Linked DNA regions of Homo sapiens: region 1 is linked to region 2. Evidence: fine-mapped QTL for protein levels in blood plasma. A gene starts in region 2. The other region holds a variant in brackets. All regions are shown on one strand. Distances are between the middles of the regions.

Region 1 (8,300 bases), 33 kb after region 2:
ATCTAACTACAGTTGCCCTAATGTCTCTTCACAAGGAGTCTAGCTGTAGTCCAGTCCTGGTAGGGTGGTTTCATGTTGTCAGGCTCCTTCTAGCTTATCACTCTACCATTTTTAAAGGCATCGCTTTCATACTCATGTTCACCTGGAGGTCACAAGATGGCTGCTCTGCCTCTAGTATCACATGTACATTTCAGGCAGGAAAAAGAGGAGGTAAAAGGGATTTCCAAGAGCCTCATCAAGCAGTTTTTACTTAGCTGCAAAACAGGCTAGAAAATGTAGTCTTTTTAAACCTGGGGATATTGCTTCTTTGAACAAACTGCAGTTTGTGAGAAGGGGAGAATAAATGATGGGAAGGAAAATAAACAATGATGTCCGATGAATAAACAGCAATTCCTATGTACAAAGTGTAGCTACATTCATCTGTATAGAAGAGATCTGAATAAATTAGGTCCTTAGAGCAGTAATGTAGCCTTATTTTTAAGCCAAATAACTCTTAGATTGTGGAATTGATACATTTTTTAAAATCACATAGTACAGTACTGTATTATAGAAGGTTTTGTTTCTTCTTACTGCACTAAGCAAATCTGTTTTAAAGAAAAGAATGGGGTGGGGGAATGCATGGGGGGACAAAAAAATCTCAAAGGATGTGTGGGTGGGTGGGGGGAGTGGGAACTGTACCAAACATAATACATCCTCTTCCTTCTGCAAGTTTGAAGGCTTGGGAAACATTTACATGGTAAGTTAAACACCCCTGGGCGGTTTATCTTATACATCTGGCACTTGACACGGCAGACACGTTTGGGTTTAAGTGACCTACAAAAATGTAGAGGGCATTATTTTGTAAGGAGAAACTACCCTCCAGTAAGTTCTTCTCCCCTTTAGTAGATTTGTCAAAAGGGAGATGCATTTCAAGTTCAGACTTGCGGGCATTCTCTCTGCATCTCTCTTCAATTAGTTTGGTGTTTATTAAAGAAAAAAGTGGCTCTTGTTCAGTATGTTGGAATCTCTTACTGTCTTTAATTTGGTTTTCTGCTTGCTAATGCAGAACTGGAATTTGTCCTAAATTCCTGTACCAGTTGGAAAAGCTTTCAATATCCCTGCTGCGAAGCATGTAACAAGGCTTACTGCTCCTCTTTTGGTACCAAAACAATATCATTGTGTTGTTGACAGGACACATGGCTTGTTTGTCCTGTTTCCCATTGCTTTCTGCAATATTTCCCATTGTTTTCCGCAGGGGACTTGCAGAGTTATTATTGTAAAGTCATTTATATTCTCAGTCTGGATTTAAATATTCTAAAGGAAAGAAACCAATAATTTGAACAATTTTAAATTCATATGCAGATATTGAGGGCTAAAGAGTTTGGGTAGAAAATCTCCTTTGGCCAGAATTATTGAGATTCCTATTTTAGTTTTCCAGTCAATTTGAAGATGTGTAAAAAGAGTTTTATGGAGGATGTTATTTTTTCAATCAGATTTGCTCTTAGCTGAGTTTTGCTCTCAGTGGATGAATCAATAATTTTATAAGAAACATTATTATGTTTTTTTCATGCAAATGGTTGTTTACCTAAGTCTCTTATAGCAGAC[G/A]ATTCAAGATGTTTGGACTTCCTTGGGAAGTTGAGAATCAGACTGTTTTTAAAATATGAAGACAAGATTGTGGAGTAAAGAATACTGAAATGAAGAATTACCTTCAGTAACAGAAAAACAATAACACATTTACTATGTGCTAAGCACTTTATATTTTTATTAATCTTCAGATGTATCTACTTATAAGTAGATTCTATTATCAGTTCCAACATATACATGATGAAAATGAGGTCTAGTAAGTTCAAGAAACTTCACACAGTAAGTGGTGGAGTTAGAATTTGAACTTGGGCCATCTGACCCAAGGATCTGATGGTGCTTGCTCTTTAAAGTGTGGTCCCTGGATCAGCAACATAGGTATCACCTGGGAGCTTGTTAGTAATGAAAATCTTCGGCCCTGTCTCAGACCTGCTAAATGAGAATTTGCAATTTTAACAAATTCCCCATATGATATCCGTGTTTGAAGTTTGGGAAGTACAGCTGTAGTTCGTATTCCCTACCTATCCTCATGTAATATAACTTCCATTTAACTTAAATTACATGAAAATATTATTGACATTGTTAATATGAAATATTACTAAACTTGATTGTGTTTATTAAAAACATTGCTAATACCTGCTTTGTAACACTTAGAACGAGGGCAGGACCTTGTCTGTTTTATTCATTGTACTTAGTGGATATTACTTAGAAAAATATTTTTGAGACCCCCCCATCCCTCAAAAAAATTTCCATTTTTTTTTCACTGCTCAAATCACATAGACTTTAAAAGGCTATGTTCTTATGTGTATTAAGAGAGGATGTTGAAAAATAGCCTTCCCTTCAAATTCTGTGTGTAAATCTTCCATTTGTTGAGTATCTGTGAAGCACTAGCCTCCTGTATGTTACCTCAGGAAATACCCAGAGATATAGGGAGATATTTCTGTCATCATTTATAGACATGGACATTTTAAGTTTAAGGTTTGATAAGAAAGCATTACTAAATACATTATAGATGTTGCGCTTGTTAAAGTCAGAGAATAATGTTCATATTGCATCAGTTTTCTTGTTACCCTGGGAAATAGATTGATACTTTTGGAAAAGTAGCAAAATGCTTCAGAGATCTGAACTTGCAGTCTGACCCAGTTGTTAGAATCATGGAAATAATGACCCTGGTGATATGTGCTTGTGACTATTTTCTATTTTAAATTTCACAGCGCTGGGATATGAAGCTTCGTCATCTTGGACTCAGTAAAAGTGATTCTAGCAATAGTGATTCCACTCAGAGTCAGAAGTCTGGCAGGAACTCGAACCCCCGGCAAGCACGCAACTAAATCCCGAAATACAAAAAGTAACACAGTGGACTTCCTATTAAGACTTACTTGCATTGCTGGACTAGCAAAGGAAAATTGCACTATTGCACATCATATTCTATTGTTTACTATAAAAATCATGTGATAACTGATTATTACTTCTGTTTCTCTTTTGGTTTCTGCTTCTCTCTTCTCTCAACCCCTTTGTAATGGTTTGGGGGCAGACTCTTAAGTATATTGTGAGTTTTCTATTTCACTAATCATGAGAAAAACTGTTCTTTTGCAATAATAATAAATTAAACATGCTGTTACCAGAGCCTCTTTGCTGGAGTCTCCAGATGTTAATTTACTTTCTGCACCCCAATTGGGAATGCAATATTGGATGAAAAGAGAGGTTTCTGGTATTCACAGAAAGCTAGATATGCCTTAAAACATACTCTGCCGATCTAATTACAGCCTTATTTTTGTATGCCTTTTGGGCATTCTCCTCATGCTTAGAAAGTTCCAAATGTTTATAAAGGTAAAATGGCAGTTTGAAGTCAAATGTCACATAGGCAAAGCAATCAAGCACCAGGAAGTGTTTATGAGGAAACAACACCCAAGATGAATTATTTTTGAGACTGTCAGGAAGTAAAATAAATAGGAGCTTAAGAAAGAACATTTTGCCTGATTGAGAAGCACAACTGAAACCAGTAGCCGCTGGGGTGTTAATGGTAGCATTCTTCTTTTGGCAATACATTTGATTTGTTCATGAATATATTAATCAGCATTAGAGAAATGAATTATAACTAGACATCTGCTGTTATCACCATAGTTTTGTTTAATTTGCTTCCTTTTAAATAAACCCATTGGTGAAAGTCTTTTTTTTTCTCTTCTTTTAAAATAAATCAGAATTGCCGTATTGACCAGGAAAAGATTATGTATGCACGTGCACCAGGGTTAGTTTTTAAAAGTACATGGCTCCATAAAAATGCTGTAGATTACAGAGTGATAAAATATGCAGGTTTTTTTGTTTTTGTTTTTTCTGTTGTGTGTGTGTCTGTATTTGTGTACATGTGTGTCCTTGCACTCACACCCAAGGTGGATTAAAATACAGGCCTGCAAACTGGCCTGCACTTTATCATTTGGATTTGTGCTGCTTAATGCTCAGCGAAAAATGTCTAGTAAAATGAATTATGGTTGTCAGGAGAGAGGTTATTTCGACTTTTGAACCAATTGCACATTTCTCATTACCCAAGCTGTGGTGAGATCCCAGGGGCTGTGGTGAACAAATGATGCTTTTATAGATGGTCCCTAGCTTACAATGATTCAATTTACAATGCTTCAATTTAACAATTTGTTGACTTACAATGGGTTTATCAGGATGTAACCCAATGCATTTCAACTTACGATATTTTCAGTTTCGAATGGGTTTATCCAGATGTAACCCCATCGTAAATGGCGGAGCATCTGTACTTCCTTCCTCTGGCAGAGTTCCTTAGAGCCTGTGCCAATTACTTGAAAGTTTCATTCTCTGCCATTTACATGTGTGCTATTAGTAGAACCAAATTTCTAAGCTGTGGCGTGCTGAAAATAAAATGCTTATGAAGCAAAAATCGTGCTATGTTTCCTTCTACAAGGATAATCAAGCAAGGATGAAATTCATTCCTGAACAAAAGTTTCCTAAAATGGTAAATAATCATCTATCTAAATGTTCTATTTTAAAAGTGTGAGCTGGGTGTGGTGAGTGCACCTGTAATCCCCACTACTTGGGAGGCTGAGGAAGGAAGACGGCTAGAGCCCATGAGGTTGAAGCTGCAGTAAGCTATGATTGCGGCCACTGTACTCCAGCGTAGGCGATAGAGCATGACCCTGTCTCTGTAACAACAACAAAAGTGTGAAAGTTCATTCTACAAATTGGAGTCACTCATATCATACCCAACTAAAATGGAGTCGGGAGGCCATGGGGAAAGGCACCCAGGTCCCTGTTCCAGGAACCATTTTTGCAGTTCAACAGAAAAATCACGAAGACCTAACTCTAACCTTAAGATAAAGTTACCTAGCTGCTGCCACTCACCAATCAGAACTTGCTAGATCCTACAAGACGCGCCTGGCTCCAGTGAACTTTCATTCAAAACCATTTAGATCACCTTCCTCTCTTCCCCAATAAAACCCCAGCCTTTCTCTTTGTTCTTTGAACACAACTAGAGGCTACACTGGTTTGTGTGCCCAGAATTACAATTCCAATTCTTATATTCCCAAATAAACCCTTTACTTGGAGATTTATCTCCCTATATTTAAAGGTGACAGAGTAAGGGAACATTCCTGCCTTCTGATTGACTCTCCAAAGCCAACAATTTCCCCAGCCCCAGAAGAAAACATTCCCACCTTTGCCTATAGGACTGCATAGTCTTTTGAGCTTCCAAAAGACCACTTCCAAAGGGCTTGCCATCTGCCCATTGTTGCTATATTCTCAGATGGCAAGGACATCTCTTTTGAGGTGCTGATGTCCTACCCTTAAAAGGTGAGTTGGGTGTCACTGGGGAGTAATGAAGCGCCACCGTGGATGGACTGCCCCTGAGAATCTCTCTTCCTGGTATGTAAGCCTCAACTTGAGCCTGAGGACAGAGGGGTGGAAAGTAGTGCTGGTGCCTCAGCCTGTTTTCCTCAGGCTTTCTCACGTTAACTCTGTAAAGAAGGACAAGAATTGACTACAGGAGAGGTTTAAAGGAACCGTTATCTCAAATCCACAAACCTCAACTCTCTCAATGCACAGTAAGCAATGTTAAGTAAGGAACTCTTTTGATGTATAAAAGCTGCAGATGTTTCCAGCTTCTGCAGTTTTTTTTGGGGGGTGGGGGTTGGGTAAAGGGGGTATGATCAGTTTCTGTGTAGGAATTTGACACACTTTATGCTTAATATAAACAAAACACGGCCAGATTCTTAGATTCAGCAGTTTTTTTTTTTTTTAAACCACCTTCCATTCGGTGCCATTTTACAACCTACTGTTTTACCACTACCATCTATAGTGGCAATGTTTGATTTTGCTCACCTATATGAGGCTTCTGTCAGCTGTTTAAACATTTCTAATGGTATAAAGCCCATGAATAAAGTACATTTGGTTTTTCAGTTTGATAGCTACAATATCTTCATTAATAAACTGTGCAGACCTCTTTTGGGAGGATGGCGTGATTTATCATGATGGTCACGTTTCTCAGGAGACTGCAAAACCATTTCTACTCTAGTTGCCATAGTACAAAGACACCTCGTTAATGCCTCTCTATAGGGTTTTCTTGCAGATAGTAACTTTTAAAGCCACTAAAAATTTAATATACATGCATCCTTGTCAGTAACCTTGAGATTGATAAAATTTATATTTCTTTAAAAAATTTTATTCAACTTTAGGATTTTAATTTTCTTAGCCAAATTAAAGTCAGATGCATGCTGAATAAAGTAGCAAATACTTAAATAGCAGCAAACATGGATTCTCTTTTCATGGATATGTATTTTACTGTGTCACATACAATGTAATCTGATTCAGTGCCATATGTTGCACCCAGCATTCAGGGATGGGGTGAGACAAACTGTCTTTCCACATGTGTTACACATTAAGAAGGCAAAAACAAAAGTTATAATCACTGTGAGCAAATAGCACTACCTATTGCCTTCTGCAAGAAATTATTTGCTGTTACATTTCAACAAGTAAAATGACTAAAGGTATTTCAAGATTGACATTTAGCACTGAGTTTTAACATATTTTAATACACAAAAATTCAAGAAGATGGTAAAAATAAAGCAGAGACTTCTAATATGGTGTTACTGAAATCCAGCCTATAAAATTTAAAAGTATGGTACCCAGATGTATTAATATTAACAAAAACAGTATAGTCATACCTTTCATAATTATCTGTTTGGGGTAATAACATCTAACAGTGGCTGGAACTCTATATGAAACACTTGTGCATATGTTACCTCACTTATTCCTTGAAAGTTGTTGAAGTAGATGTTTTATTCCCATATAACAGATTTTTTTTTTTTAAATGAGTATTTAGAACTTCAGAGTTGTGTAAGTAGCAGAGCTGGGCCTTAGATCCTCATAATCTTATTTCCCAAATTATATGTTTTCCACCACTGCAATTTCTGATAAAAAGGTAAATGCATCCTAGCACTGTAAAAAAAGAAAAAGCATAGTGTCAGGCATATAGTGGTAGCTATTGCTATTATTGGATTATAATAAATAATAATATAAATATAACAATAGCTATTATTTCTTAAACTGAGGTCTACCAACTATGTTAGAAAGCCTATATAATATAGGCCCAACTCTAATCCAAGATACAGTCACTTCACATCTTCAGGTGTCCTCCCTTATGAAATCAGAATTTCAGTAGAATTATTTCCATACAGACAGGCAGGTGAATTAAGTAATTTTGGGGGCATTAGTTGTTTAAAAATGTGTGACTCTCAGAAAAGCATTTTTCAAGGTTTCTGTTTTCCCTTGAATTTGTAGAAAAGTAAACAGTTAATTGTATTCAACAACACCTGGAAGAAAGTTGAAATTAAAAGTTGATAATTATTACAAATAAAACGAGAACGACTACTTCCACTGGGAACTCCCATTTCTCCTTTTTAGATTATGCCCCCTATGTTTCCCACCACCAGAGTCCTCCATAATCTAGAAAAACTATTCCACCTGACCTAATTCCCCCTGCTTTTCATTCATTAAGTATTTTCACTATGACAGGGATTCAACATGTTAATACAACTAAATATGTTTTTCTTCCGATGAAATGCAAACGTTTGTCATGTTTCTACTTAGGTGGTTGTTGAGAACTTGAGGAGTTGTCCCATGAAGAAGGAAAGGTTGTGCTCAAGGAAATTTGTCCAAAAAAAAAAAAAAGGATTTGTGGGCTGTTGAGGAAACTGACACAGAAATGAAAGAAAATGCGGGAAAGAATTTTCTACTCACCACAGGGATGTGGAGGGGAATGACCCCACTCATTACACAGTGGTACTGTGGCCACTCTTGCAAACAGCCACCACCTCCCTCCCCACACACTTAGCATCACGATGTGAGGTTGATGTTATGATTGCAGGGTTGGACTTAGGATAGTCTGGGGCCTCAGCAAGGGTGGGTCGGGTGATGTCTGAAACATAGGATAGCTCTGAGATGTTAAGAAGTCAATGAAACAGGGAACAAAGGATTTCTTGTTTATACTGGGTGGTAAATCCAATAAATAAAGCAGATGCAGTTCACTCTAATGTCTTTATTTCTACATTATTTTGGTGATTCTGAGGGAATCATGGCTTCCCAGAGATGGTATTCCTGTCCTAGCACTGAAAAGAAGAATTTGAGTTGAACTGTGGGACAACTTGGCAAAAGGAGAGATCAATATGAACAAAATTCCTATTGGAAAACTTTCTCTACGACCTAAAACTCAAGTAATATAT
Region 2 (8,341 bases):
ATAGGTTTACAGTTTATTTAAACAGATGAAAAAATAATGTGAATATTCAAATTACTGACAAAATAAGACATTGCAAAATTGGGGCAGGGAGGGGGAAATTGGCCAAATTTGAATTTTGGTAATATGGCTATATCAAAGTAATATACTCTAGCATGATCTTTTTCTTGACATTGCCACAGGAACACCTACCTGTCAGGAAGTTAAACCAAATGTCAATGATCATGGTATCATTACTCATCCTAAGAAGCTTGACTGGCCATCACTGGGTCTGGGTGCACTTCCTAAGCAGTGGTTGAGCCTGGAATTAACCCATAGTCCCAACTAGGTGCTAGGGGGCGCTATGCTGCAGCTCTCAGACAGCCAGGTGTCCTCTGGCTATCATAACCAATGCATATCATAACCTGGATATGCATTGTGTGGAGCCCTTTGAAGTCCTTGAATCTGGTGTCCATAGATTTTTTGTTTCCAGCAGAGTATTAGTATATTAATAATTTGGTGGGGGCTCACACCTGTAAGTGGGCAGATCATTTGAGACAAGGTGGGCAGATCATTTGAGCCCAGGAGTTTGAGACCAGCCTGGGAAATATGGCAAAACTTGGCTGGGCTCAGTGGCTCACACCTGTAATTCCAGCACTTTGAGAGGCCAAGGTGGTTGGATCACCTGAGTGAGGTCAGGGGTTCGAGACCAGCCTGGCCAACATAGTGAGCCCTGTCTCTACTAAAAATACAAAAATTAGCTGGGCAGGGTGGTGCGTGCCTATAGTCTCAGCTACTCGGGAGGCTGAGGCAGCAGAATCACTTGAACCTGGGAGGTGGAGGTTGCAGTGAGCTGAGATCACATCGCTGCACTCCAGGCTGGAGACAGAGCAAGATTCCGTCTCAGCAAAACAAAAACAATAGATGTTGGTGTGGATGTGGTGAAAGGGAATGCTTATACACTGCTGGTGGAAATGTAAATTAGTACAACCTTTATGAAAAACAGTGTGAAGATTTCTCAAAGAACGAAACTGGACCTACAGTTTGATACAGCAATCCCATTACTGGGTATCTACCCAAGTGAAAAGACATCAATTTGTCAGAAGGACAACTGCATGCATATGTTTATTGCAACACAATTCACAATTGCAAAGATATAGAACCAAACTAAGTGCCCATCAACCAAAAATATGGAACTAAACTAAGTGTCCATGTCCATCAAATGATGAGTGGATAAAGAAAATGTGGTATATATACACCACGGAATACTACCCAGCCAGAAGAAAGAATGAAATAATGTATTTTGCAGCAGTTTGGGTGGAGCTGGAGGCCATTATACTAGGTGATTTAACTCAGGAATGGAAAATGAAATACTGTATGTTCTCACTTATAAATGAGAGCAAAGCTATGGGTACAAGAAGGCATATCTTTGAGAGGTATAACAGACTTTGGAGACTCACAAGTGGGGAGCTTGTGAGTCTACTAGGGAGGCTGAGGCAGGAGAATCTCTTGAACCCGGGAGGTGGAGGTTGCAGTGAGCCAAGATAGTGCCACTGCACTCCAGCCTGGGCAACAAGAGCAAAACTCCATCTCAAAATAAATAAATAAATAAATAAAGGAATAATTTGTAAAAACAAACACTGTTCAAGGGTAACTAACCAGAAAAATGAACACAACTAGACAAGGTACTCAAAAGGGCTTCCTCAAGACAGTGACATTTATTTTGGGCTTTTATAAAAACAAATTTGGATTAAAGTTGTAAGGGGACCTATTAGACAAAGAAGATAGCTGACTTTTGTGCAGGGGAAGGAAAACAGACTTTGTTTCAAATAGTTGTAGAACCTTTAAAACTATTGGCACATTTCTTCTCACACTGTAAGACTTAAGATGAACAGAAAAATGTATTTAGCAAACAATCTACTACATCTACTCCTGATGTTTTTTCTTCTAATTATTGAAAATCTCAGCTATATTTTTCTTATACAAAATAGTCCCAAAATGTTCTAATGTTGACTGTCTTTTAAAGTTGTTTTTCCTCTAAATTTTACTTGATAAATCATTTTAAATTCGTTTGTACAATTTTTGAATTTGTTCTCTTACATGACACTAGATAATTGTAGACCAGGCAAAGTTTGTATACTAACTGACTCCCTGTCTACCATCTGGTGTTCCCCGCCCCCGCCACCATAAGTGGAACAAACTTCCTTCCAAAAAAATTTACAGCAGTCACAAACTGCTGTTTATGATCATTTTAGATATAAAATTCCATAACTCAAGTTAGCATTGACATTTTATAAGTGCTGTCAAGTCACTCTAGGGAATGAAAATGAGCATCTCACTATGTGCTCTGAAGTGGGGACATATTTCTCTGCTTGTTATGGACGGTGAGAGATGGCTAAATTGAAGCAGAGAAATATTTCAGTGATGCAGAGCAAAGGTGACTTCCTGTTTTGTTTCAGGTTTTGTTTCCTTCTCCTCTCAATGAAGGCTGTGTTTTCTGACATTCGGCAATCCTTTTGCTCAGTGATTTCCCATTGAGAGGGCATAGTGTGAAGGCCTCTGCAGGTCATTCCATTTACAATATAAGCTGAAAGGGTAGAGTGGGGCGGGGGTGGGGGGAAGAGGGAGCTCATTAGTGGAAGAAGCAGACCAGGAGGGGATCTGTTTTCCATTTTCTCCTCCAGATTGAACTCATCTGGATGGAAAGGTTTTGATTGTTGTTATAATCATCATTATTACCTGCGTGATGTCGTTTTCCTACACTTTTTTTTTAAGTGTCGGGCAGAATTGTTGCTGAGAATAACAAATAATATCTGCCATGTTATCCGTGAGCAAAATCAGAAAAAAAAAGTCCAAGTGTATTAGAGCTGTTAGTTTCCACGTTAACCCTTAAGGAGCAAAGCTCAAGAGTTCTAATTCCACTAGGTGGGGGGGGCGGGAATAGAAGGAAAAAACCCCTTTTCCTTGCTTCTGGTGGCCTATTTGTAGTCATGAACAGCATTTCTTTGTTTCTCTCTCTCTTTTTTTTTTTTTTTAAAGGCAATCCTCCCCCCACCTCCTCCCCCGCAGTTATTGAAAATGGAGACCTCTGTAGTCACTAGCTCTGGGTTGATATGGCTCCACCGTTGCTCGCAGGGGTCTGTGTTTTCCGCTACTTGGACAAAGTGACATTGCTTAAGCCTTTCCCCCCACCAGGTCTGACTTTCTGCAGAGCCAGTGATTGCAGAGGAAAAGCTGTAGTTTGCTTAAAGGAAATACCTCCAGGAAGGAGGGTCTCGGGTGGGTTCCCAAGTGGGGAACTAGGGGGACTTTTCCGTAGGGAATTGGGGTGGGCTCTTCAGTGAGGGGCTAGGGGCTCGTTTCTGGGGCCAAAGACGGGTTCCCTAGTGTGAGGGCGCGCTCGACTCGGCGCTGTCTTGGGGTCTCGCACTCGCACGGCTTCGCACCCCACCGCCTGCGACTCCCAGGCCTTCTCTTCCCCGGGCGCCCACTCCATTCTCGGGAAGAGCAGCCGGCACTGGAGGGCAGAGACTGCCCCAGGGGCGGAGCTCCCTCTCAGGCGGGAGGTAGGAAAGTGCAGAGCCGCCCGGGCAGAGGCACAGACGTCCCTGCGGGGCTCCTCCTGAGCGTCCCTCCTGCCAGCCAGGGTCGCAGCCGCAGCGGCGGCCGCAGCTCTTAGCCCACACAGGACTTGTAAACTCTTACTGCACCCTTCTCTCCCATTAGGAGCTTTTCCTCCCTCCTTCCCCCCAACCCCTCTGTCCTCCTCACTTTGGGGAATTTAATGCTTTCTTTAGCATCTTTTTGTGTGCGTGATCTAGGGGAGGAGACACCCCAGAGCTCCAACTAGCTCTCAGCTGAATTCTACTTTTGTTTTTATGTCTTCCTCGCCTCCTCTCGTGTCCCTCTTATCTGACTGATCTGCGAAGTCTGATGCTTCTGCCAGAGGGAGAGGAATAAATAGATGTTGCTGCTTCCGAAGGCTTAGACGTTGGGAAAGAGCAGCCTGGGCGGCAGGGGCGGTGGCTGGAGCTCGGTAAAGCTCGTGGGACCCCATTGGGGGAATTTGATCCAAGGAAGCGGTGATTGCCGGGGGAGGAGAAGCTCCCAGATCCTTGTGTCCACTTGCAGCGGGGGAGGCGGAGACGGCGGAGCGGGCCTTTTGGCGTCCACTGCGCGGCTGCACCCTGCCCCATCCTGCCGGGATCATGGTCTGCGGCAGCCCGGGAGGGATGCTGCTGCTGCGGGCCGGGCTGCTTGCCCTGGCTGCTCTCTGCCTGCTCCGGGTGCCCGGGGCTCGGGCTGCAGCCTGTGAGCCCGTCCGCATCCCCCTGTGCAAGTCCCTGCCCTGGAACATGACTAAGATGCCCAACCACCTGCACCACAGCACTCAGGCCAACGCCATCCTGGCCATCGAGCAGTTCGAAGGTCTGCTGGGCACCCACTGCAGCCCCGATCTGCTCTTCTTCCTCTGTGCCATGTACGCGCCCATCTGCACCATTGACTTCCAGCACGAGCCCATCAAGCCCTGTAAGTCTGTGTGCGAGCGGGCCCGGCAGGGCTGTGAGCCCATACTCATCAAGTACCGCCACTCGTGGCCGGAGAACCTGGCCTGCGAGGAGCTGCCAGTGTACGACAGGGGCGTGTGCATCTCTCCCGAGGCCATCGTTACTGCGGACGGAGCTGGTGAGTTTTGACACGGCCCACCCTTCCCTTACCCTACAGCCTCCTCAATTCTTGGAGTCCTTGTTACTAGCCTTTACTCTCTAATTTTTTTCTCTTCGGATCACTTAATCTCTCCCATAACTGCTCCTCTATCAAAGACCCTTCTTCTTCTTTCTTCTTTTTTCAAAAACAAAAACAAAAAAACCCTCACCTTATCACCTTCCAAACTGATGCACTCTGGCACTGTGTTCCAATAGGCGATCTTTCTAAAACAATCCATGCATTCCAAACCCATCACACTTCTACTCCACAGGAATCCTTCACTTCAACTCCTTACATGTGCAAGTAGCCACATTTTGTAAAGTGATGCTCTTTTTCTTTTAAAATGTGTTTATAATCATTGGGTTTTCTTTGCTGATTCTCAGGCAATCTCAGTCATCAGGTTTCTGTATCTTTAGTGTCTTAGATGCTTGTTAAGATTGTGTGGAGGAAACAGAAAACTGAAGCCCCATTTTCTTCTAATTAAAAATGCCAAGATAATTTCAATAACCTTACTCTAACCGACAGATGTTAGGGGTATGTGTTTGCTCAAGATCCAGTTTGAGCAATTACCTTCACCTTAAATTTCCCCCTCCTTTCAATGAGATAAATTGTTCTTCCATTCCAGAATGAAACAATTGTGAAACATTGCTATGCACTGTTAATTAGCTTCTGTGGCTTGCCATAGAGCTGGCAGACTGAAATTACTGAGCTCTTTTCACATGCCCACATGCCTTCAAGTCATTTTATAAGTGGCATACAGATGAAAGGAGTTATATTTAAGGCGTGTTATCATACACTCACGTAATGTTATTTTAAATCTCACCCCTTATTCCACTCTCATGTTTTGAAAAAAAAATTGTCTTTAATACCTTATTTCATGCTCCTTTTCCGTGTGTGCACCAACCACAGTCATTTCAGTCTTTCCCTACCATAAAACTTTATTGCAGCTCTAAATTTAATGGAGTCAATCACAAGTTGTTTTCTCACTAGTGTTTAGTCTAATTATGACATTTGTAACTTTAAGACCCCAACTAAACCTACTTCATTATGGTCCATTTAATTCTAACTCAGTATTACTTCTACCAACTAACCCAACCTCAAATTTTACCCTTCATATATTTTATAAAGAAGGCAATTTTTTTTCATGAGTGGTCCTCTTTCATACCACATCCCCCACCCCCCAACAACTCTGTTCTTAGATGTGTTGACTTGGTTGCCTCCATCTGTTTATTTCTTGGGCATCAACTTTCCTTCCTCTTTCAACTTGCGCAGTCTAGGCGCATGTCCCCAGTCCATTTCCAGGTAGTAATTCTTAGTTATCGGGAAATTGATTTGGAAAAATTACCTTCTGTGCACGTTGACTCATTTAACAAAGTGAGAGAAGGAGAAGTAATTGTAAAAATAGCTGAAGGAAAAAAAATAAACAGAAGAATTTCAAGAACTTTTTAATGGTGACCTCACTTAGTTTATCACTTTTTGAATATACCTATTGTCTTCTTGATTTTAATCAAGAACCAAAAGCTAGTTGTGCAAAATCATCACAGAAATGTATTTGCTATTAATCTTTGCTAAAAGAGCATGCTTGAGGCTTCGTACTCACTAAAGTCACAGACTGCAGAGTCTGGAAGTGCTCAGTGCAGTTGCCGCTCTGGTTTGCCAGGCACTTAGAATCAGTTAAATGCAGGTGCTCCTCTCAGGCCAAGGGCTAGGAATGAGGTGGCAGTGGTTCAGGCTGAAATGCATTCCTCCCCGTAAAGCACAAAACTTGCTCTTAAACCTCCCTTAGAGGTGGACCTAGAGTGAGTGAGGTTTGGCAAGGTTAATGGCTCTCAAAAAGCCATAGTCAATATGGATAGGAAGCAGTTTCATTAAGTGTCCCTGAGTTACCAATCACTGTGGAACAAACATGGAAACAGTTGCCTCATTGAAGCACTCAAATAGGACATGCATGGAAACAATTTGTCAGTTCATGGGACCTGATTTCTAAGCTTCTTTAAAATGCCAGAGTATTTGCTTTACTGGCAGCATCCTTGCTAGAAAAATAGGTGGTAGTTGGAATCATAGTTAGTGATGGCATCCCTGCTCCCTTCCATAAGCTTCAGTGTGAACCAGAGGCTATGATGGCAAGGGGAGCTCAAAGGTGGGGGGAGGTGGAAATTGGGAATGAAGTGTGTAGATTGTAGCCTGAAGGGTCTCCTGGCTTCCAGGGCCAGCTTGTTGAAAATTACATTCCCTATGCTGGGTCAAACTGTCAGACACCTGGAATTACTTAGGAACTACCACATGTGGCCAGTGTAATTTACCATGCAATATCCAATATACTCTTTGGTTCAGTGGGAAGTGATAGTTCACAAAGCAAGGTTTTTTTCTTATTCAACTGGGTATAAACAGAATCCCTGTGTCTTTTGACTAGTATCTGTCCAACTAGATATAAAAATGAGGTCTCCCTGAATAAAATAGGACAATCTTTCACATTCTTCTGATGCCAAGAGGATTTTCAAATCCTACCCATTCATGGGGATCTGTTCTCTCATAGTATATCATGACTCCACAAACAAGCTTAGGACCTTTTACAAAGCAGTCTTACTGAAATGGAGTAATGCTTGAAACTACTTTTTGCTTTCAAAATACTAAGGGTAATCATATTTTTGAAAAGAACGGGTTCCATCCTGACCATTATTATTCATCTTACACATTTTATATTTGCATAACTTTGTGTGACTACATGTACAACTGATTATCTGAAAACTCAGCTCAATTGAGTCATTCAGCAAGTTAGTGATGACATTCAGTCAAATCTTTAATATTGTGTGGTGAGTAAAGAGGATAGGCTTGGAGTGGGGCAGACCAGGTGTGAATGACTCTGCCCCGACATCAACTATTGTTATAGGAAAATTATATGACCTCTGTAATTCAAAGTTTTCTTATCTGTAAAATTAGGACAAAACTATCTACATCCCAAGGGCATGGTAAAGATGAAATTAAAGCTGGTGCAGTGGCTCACTCCTGTAATCTCAGCACTTTGGAAGGCCGAGGCGGGTGGATCACTTGAGGTCAGGAGTTGGAGACCAGCTTGGCCAACATGGTGAAACCCTGTCTCTACTAAAAATACAAAAATTAGCCTGGGATGGTGGTGCGTGCCTGTCGTCCCAGCTACTCCAGGAAACTGAGGCAAGGGACTCACTTGAACTCCGGAGGTGGAGGTTGCAGTGACCTGAGATGGCGCCACTGCACTCCAGACTGAGCGACAGAGCCAGACTGTGTTTCAAAAAAAAAAAAAGAAAAGAAAAGAAAAGAAATTAAACAGCATATAAAGCATTGCTTTAGTACTTAGTAAGCACTGAAAAAAGTGCTGCTGCTGTTTTACTATTATCACTGTTAAAACAAATTGACTAACATTTTCTATTTTGTTTTTGAAATGGTTATGTTGGTAAATGCAGATGCAGCCTAGAACTTTTATTAGTTCATCTCTGGGGAAAAACAAAACAAAAAAGCTTTACACTGGGACCTAACTGGAAAAACAAATCTTATTTCTTCTAAATATATAAAGTTAGTATTTCCTTTTACACAAATTGACCTAGACCTCAGGCTCAAGAGCAGATCCCCTTGGGAGCGACAGAAAAAAGAATGAGTCTGGTGGAGGAGTTAATTACAAATA

Alleles and levels. Positions count from the first base shown, and alleles are read on the strand shown. Strength reflects both the effect of a copy and how common the allele is.
In carriers of allele G in region 1, the plasma level of the protein whose gene starts at base 4,100 in region 2 tends to be lower than with A alone (weak association).

The links. A credible set is the group of variants that fine-mapping cannot tell apart. PIP is the posterior inclusion probability: the model's chance that the variant is causal. The UK Biobank Pharma Proteomics Project read protein levels with antibody pairs (Olink). The fine-mapping took linkage between variants from a reference panel, not from the people measured, so its PIPs are less certain.
Region 1: its variant is the best candidate, but not a certain one, in a credible set for the plasma level of the FRZB protein (UK Biobank, PIP 0.87).

Annotation. Positions count from the first base shown.
Region 1 is chr2:182,829,440-182,837,739 of GRCh38, reverse strand. It overlaps FRZB (frizzled related protein), which reads left to right. Exons shown (of 6, transcript NM_001463.4): 6 at 2,775-4,465. The coding sequence ends at 2,891. Among named protein-coding and RNA genes, the nearest start is that of FRZB, 33 kb to the left of the region's middle. The variant G/A (reference allele first, on the strand shown) is at 1,585.
Region 2 is chr2:182,862,396-182,870,736 of GRCh38, reverse strand. It overlaps FRZB (frizzled related protein), which reads left to right and starts at 4,100. Exons shown (of 6, transcript NM_001463.4): 1 at 4,100-4,662. The coding sequence starts at 4,185. RefSeq lists an enhancer at 3,969-4,937.